2 linked regions of the Homo sapiens genome follow. The protein of the gene in region 2 interacts with the protein of the main gene of each other region in a biochemical or structural test. Each region holds a gene or a part of one and is shown on either strand. Other genes may lie near its edges.

What was found.
Region 1: the proteins of CIDEA (region 2) and NR1H2 form a complex in vitro, tested with the Homo sapiens proteins (one study listed by IntAct).

What each region holds. Positions count from the first base shown.
Region 1 is NC_000019.10:50,379,314-50,381,847, reverse strand, and holds part of NR1H2 (oxysterols receptor LXR-beta), read right to left. Parts: intron 2,069-2,534; coding exon 1,969-2,068; intron 1-1,968. UniProt on the Homo sapiens protein: Nuclear receptor that exhibits a ligand-dependent transcriptional activation activity. Binds preferentially to double-stranded oligonucleotide direct repeats having the consensus half-site sequence 5'-AGGTCA-3' and 4-nt spacing (DR-4).
Region 2 is NC_000018.10:12,274,463-12,278,148, forward strand, and holds the end of CIDEA (lipid transferase CIDEA), read left to right. Parts: intron 1-2,660; coding exon 2,661-2,808; 3' UTR 2,809-3,133; downstream 3,134-3,686. UniProt on the Homo sapiens protein: Lipid transferase that promotes unilocular lipid droplet formation by mediating lipid droplet fusion. Lipid droplet fusion promotes their enlargement, restricting lipolysis and favoring lipid storage.

The sequences.
Region 1 (2,534 bases), on a different chromosome or scaffold from region 2:
GTCATTTCTGTCCACCTGTGCCCCGTGCCCATGAGTGCTGGCATGTAGTAGGTGTGCCACACATGCTGCCCAGTGAAGGAATGAATGAGGGTGCATGTTTCTTCAGTATTTTCTACTATCCTATCACCACCCTCCCTTCCCACCTGGGCGGTGGCTGCAGCTTCCCGAGTCCCTATTCTTGTCCCCTTCACAAAGGCAAAGGGAAGCTTTTAAAACCTAGGTCACATCGTGCTGGTCCCAGCGCTGGCTTCCACTGCTCAAGGTAAAGCCCAAACTCATTCCCAAAACTGACTTGTTCATTCAGTCATCAAATGTCACTGAGTACCTGCCACGTGCCAGGCTCCAGCACTTACATTTGAGAGCCTAGGGGACCGGTCATAGACAAACACATTAGGAAGAGGCCCAGCCTGTCAGAGGGCTGTGAGTTCAATGGAACCAGGCAGTGCAGAGAAGTGTGAAGGGCCCTGCTGAGCCATGGTTCTATTTTACACAAGGCGGGCAGGGAAGGCTGCGCTCTGGGTGACGCTGGAGCAGTGACCAATCCGAAGGAGATGAGGGATTGTGAGGGTGACCAACGTCTGCTGTTCCCATGACTTGGGACGGGGGCTACCCAGGCCATGAGACTTTCAGTGTTAAAACTGGGAAGGTCCTGGGCAAACTAGGACCAGTTGGTCCCCCTAGTTCTGGGCAGAGGAAACTCCAAGTACACAGGCCCTTGGCTGCAGCATGCTGGATGGGTGCCAGTAAGAGGCCAGAGTGGCTGGAACAGGGGGAGAGGGTGAGAGCTGAGGGCAGAGAGTGAGCGAGGCCAGGTCCTAAAGGGCTTTGTGGGCCACAGAGAGGACTCTAGCTCTTCTCCCAGTGAGACGGGAGCCGCGGAGGGTTCTGAGCGGAGGAGGGAAGTGGGCAGCCTTAAGTGCTGACAGGACCCTTCTGCCTGTGCTGTGAGCAGCCCCATCAGGCAGGGGTGGAGGCAGGCGGCCCCTCAAGGGGACCCTGGCAGTGTTCCAGGGTGGTGGCAGAGGAGCGGCTGGGAAGGGGTAGGGTGGGATTCCCGACCTCCTCTCCACCCCATCTCCTTGTGCTCCAGCTGCCTGGGCCTCCCTGTAGTTCCTCCAAACCACCAGCTCTCCCCAACCTCAGGGCCTCTGCAATCGCCAATCTCCTCTGCCAGAAACGCTTCCCTGCAGCCCTGCCCTGCTAAGCTCATACTAAAAGGGTTACTGGGACCGTCTCGGGTGGTGAAAGGGCCGGAGTAAGAGGAAGGGGAGAGGGTGGGGTTTGGACAGATGTCGGGAAATACAGAGAGGTCCCCCAGAGATTGTGGGACAATGAGGGAGCGAGGCCCTGGTGCATGCTCTGCAGCACTAGCAATGCTCCTCCCACCCTTTTCCTAGGCAGTGCCTCTCACTGCCCAGGCCTTCTTCCAGAAGCCCACCCACGCAGGTTAGCGCTCTCAGAGGGCAGGAAGCAGTGCTCCCCTAGACAGTAAAGAAGGCTGCCCGCTTCACAATGGACCGAGCTCCAGCCCGCCTCCCTTGGGTGAGACCACGTTTTGGCGGGGGCGGGGAATGCTTTTCCTAATGCCCACCAAGATGCCTGATGTGGTAACAGGGCTCCTCCCATCTCAACTTCCACTGCAACCCAATGTACAGAGTCGGCACTCAATACATGCTTTTTTTAAAAAATAGAGACACGGTCTTCTCTGTCACCAGGCTGGAATGCCGTCGCACAATCACGGCTCACTATAGCCTCAAGCAATCTGCCCTCCTCAGCCTCGAGTGGCTGGGACTATTGGCGTGCACCACCACACGTGGCACATGCACTCTTACCTCACTCTCACCTTGGCTCAACCCTCACCCCAACTTTGGAGATAAAGAAACAGAGACTCCAACAGGGATGAGTTGGCCCCAGGTCTTCCAGCCAGCAGGGGCGCCAAGCCTCCCCGAAGCCTCCCCTGGGCCCTACCTGCACGGTGGAAGTCGTCCTTGCTGTAGGTGAAGTCCTTCAAGAAGGTGATACACTCTGTCTCGTGGTTGTAGCGCCTGGCTGTCTCTAGCAGCATGATCTAAGGGCGGCAGCGGGAGGGGGAGCTTGAGCCCTGTGACCCTTCAGCTGCTAGTCCCTCCCCTCCTGGCCCAAATGGGGGTCTAATCTCACCAGGATTATCCCTTGTCCCCTTCCCCCCTGTTCTCTCAGCCACACCAGCGTGCAGCCATCACGTGAGACAGCCCGAGCTCTTTCTCCACTTCAGGCTTCCGCACATGCTGCATCCCCATCTCCTTAGGATACTCTTTCCCCAGGTGAGCACAAGGTTTGGGGCACGGGGTTTGATCTGCTTTGTTCTTTGCCCCATATGCCAACACTTGGAATAGAGCCTGGCATACAGCACGTGCTCAATACTTATATGTTATCCCTACTTTGATTCAAATGCTAACTCCTCTGAAAAGCCTTTTTGGCAACTTTTCTCTGCAATAGCGCCTCTAGCCTGATCCTCAATTTTCTCAGCCTCAGACCCTTTTTCCTTTCTCTCC
Region 2 (3,686 bases):
AAAACAGATTTATTTCTTCCAAAGACCACTAACTATTCATTAGAAACAAAAGCTAAATAATAAATATAAAGAGGAACCACATTCATTTTAAGAACTAGAGCACTTAATTCTAGGTGATGATGACTAAAACCAGAGCCATGGAGGTCGTGGCCGGGTTTGTACAGAACGGTCACCTAGACCCTGGTGAATCACACGCCTTTGCATGTATCTCCTGTACTCCTGATAACTTCAGCCTTACCAGTAATGTGGCATGGGCGTGTGTCCTCTCCACATAATGCCAGGGCACCGTCATCCCAAAGACGAAGGCCAGGCTGGTTGCACAGCATCCCAGGAAACAGAACTTTTAGAAGACAGACTCCTGATCCAGCCATACCCCAGACCCATTCAAACAAATTCCATGTGATCAAAAGGAGCCTTCCTGGGTGTTCCTGCCCCATAACTGGGTGCCACCCCTGCCATTGAGCCTGGGACTGAGAGAAACACCAGCAGTCCCTGCTCTAAGGAATCAGCTGTGTGACCTTTCACAGACTCCTTAACTTCTCTGAGCCTTGCTTTTATCATCTTTAAATGAGAAGGTTGGTCAGGCATGGTGGCTCACACCTATAATCCCAGCACTTTGGGAGGCCAAGGTCAGCAGATCACTTGAGGCCAAGAGTTCGAGACCAGCCTAGCCAACATGGCGAAACTCTGTCTCTACTAAATATACAAAAATTAGCTGGGCGTGGTGGCGGATGCCTGTAATCCCAGCCACTCAGGAGGCTGAGGCAGGAGAATTGTTTAACCCCAGGAGGCGGAGGTTGCAGTGAGCTGAGATCCGCCACTGTGAGCCATAACCACACCACTGCACTCCAGACTGGGTGACAGAGCAAGACTGTGTCTCAAAAATAAATAAATAAACAAACAAAAAATAAATAAAATGAAAAGGTTGCTTCCAAGCTCTTTATGATTGCCAGGGCTCTAACTACACCTACTTCTACTCCAGTAAATTTACCGTTGATCCTTAAAGAACTAACCTCTGTGGAGGGAGTGGATGGGAGAGTGGCTGATTGCAGTAGAAAGGTCTTCAAGTCGAAAAGTTTTGCAGCTGCTGCCATTCCAGTGCCCCCTGCACGTCCCTGTGGGCAGGGCCGCCCGTTTCTCTTTGAGGGTGTTGTTTCCGTCCCCCGTGGCCTTGACAACTGCTCTGATTTGTGCTGAGCACAGCAAAGGGGAAATGCCCTCCTCTCAGAGGTCTCCTGGCCTCACCTGAGGTGGGCCAGGGTGTGTGGCTTCTCTGTGGCCTCAGTTTCCCATTCAGAGCCATCAGTGGCTGACTCTAAACTACAGTCACTGTCATAGTGTTGGAGTCTTGACTCCCAGGAGAGCTTCCTTTTTTTTGTCTTTTCCTTTTTGCCGGGTTAGGAGAAAATAGCTTTACACTTGGATTTTAAAAGTTAGGCAAGAGAGTTACAACAACTGAAAAAGGTAAGATGAAGAAAGCTAACCTCACCCAAAATTCCACCTCAGTGAAATCTTTTTTCTTTTTCTTTTCTTATTTTTTTTCTTTTTTGAGACGGAATCTCACTCTGCTGCCCAGGCTGGAGGGCAGGGGCACGATCTCAGCTCACTGCAACCTCCTCCTTTCAAGTTCAAGCCATTCCCGTGGCTCAGCCTCCCAAGTAGCTGAGATTACAGGCATGCACCACCACACCCAGCTAACTTTTGTATTTTTAATAGAGACGGGGTTTCACCATGTTGGCCAGGCTGGTCTCAATCTACTGGCCTCAGGTGATCCACCCACCTCGGTCTCCAAAAGTGCTGGGATTACAGGCATGAACCACATTCCAGGCCCTTTTTCTTTTTTTTTAAGAAAGAGGGTCTCACACTGTCCCCCAGGCTGGAGTGCAGTAGCACAATCATAGTTCACTGCAGCTTCCAACTCTTGGACTCAAGCGATCCTCCCACCTCAGCCTCTGAAAGTGCTGGGATTATAGGCATGAGCCACCACACCTGGCCACAAAGTCTTTCTTGAAAGACAAGTTCAGCCTTCTTGTTACTAATTTGTATTCTCTGATAAATCCGATGACACCACAAGCAGCCATGGAACTCACGACAGCCCCCACACTGGAGGCACCGCCTGCTAGGGACCCTGTTGTGGGTGCTGGGGGCAGTGGGCCCTCCTGATGAGACAGCTGCCCAGGCTTGGCTATCGCATCCCCATGGGCTCAGTCACTGCTGAATGTCCTGCTACTACCTTAGGAAGGGAAGGGATTTCAGTAGCAGGGCCCCTAGAACAGCCCAGCAGCCGAAGCCCAGGACACAGCACACCTGTGCGGGTGCGGCCATCTGCTCCACACAGAGCTTGCCAGCCACTCAACAAGCAGGCCGCACTTCAGGTGGCTCATGGGAGCCGTGCTTCTTGCGGTGGTCTTGGGCCAGCAGCAAGGGGGTCCTCAGGGAGCTCACAGAGACCTGCTCCTGGCCAGACCCACTGCCACGGCAGCTGCATCTGTGCCAGCCCTGGGACACGTGCACTCTGAGAGTCAGACAGCCATGCTCTAAATGTCAGCCTGGCCTCCTCCGAGTGCCTTTTGGTGGGGGGAGTGAAGTATTCCCATCCTGTCTGTTTCTCACTGGCCCAAAATCCCAAGCTAAAGCCTCCCCATCTGCCTCTGCCACAGGAGTCTGCTGCGGTTCCTGTCCTACTCCGCCCAGGTGACGGGACAGTTTCTCATCTATCTGGGCACATACATGCTCCGGGTGCTGGATGACAAGGAAGAGCGGCCATCCCTCCGGTCACAAGCCAAGGGCAGGTTCACGTGTGGATAGGGATGCAGGCTGTCGCCGGCTCTTGAGCCAAACACTGTGTTTCGTTTGGCTCAATGACGAATGTTGAAGATGCTTTTATGTTCTGAGCCACATGCACTTGGAGGCCGCTGGTCACGCTGCTCAGGAGTGGTGCCCAGAAAAGGAAAGGGCTTGGTGGTACATGAAGTGGGGGCAGTGGGCAGGGTGCCCTGGGGGGGAGGCATAGAGGGCCCTGGGGGTCATGGGAAGCGAGCACGCAGCAGGCGTGCCCAGGAGCGTGTGCATGTGTCAGAGCCATTTGGTCCATCATCTCCTGCAATAAACCCATCGCAAGAATGACCTTCAAGATGTGTGACACTTCCTGTGTCTCCTTTATCTCTCAGAAGAGCAAAAAGCAAACAAAACAAAACAAAACTATCAGAACAGCAAAAAAAAAAAAAAACTTTATATAGAAGCAAAACTCATCCAGGAATATTCTGCTAACAGATATAATCTCTCATAAGTCTTTATTAGTGCCACAAAAATAACAAGCTGCAAAATGTTATTGTATGTTTTTTTCAAACATGGATTTTTAACAGGCTCAAAGGGGCCCTCACACTGAAGGACTCAAATTGTGGAGGTCTTCAAGGACTTTTTTACTTTTTCACTTGTGAAAGTGAAAGGACTTTACTTTTTCAGCCTCTTTTTTCTTTTTCTTCTTTTTTTTTTTTTTTTTTTTTTGAGACAGGGTCTAGCTCTGTCACCCAAGCTGGAGTACAGCGGCCTGATCTCGGCTCACTGCTGCCTCGACCTCCCTGGGCTCAAGCCATCCTCCCACCTCAGCCTCCTGAGTAGCTGAGATTACAAGTGCACACCACCACCCCTAGTTTTTTTTATTTTTGTAGAGATGGGGTCTTGCT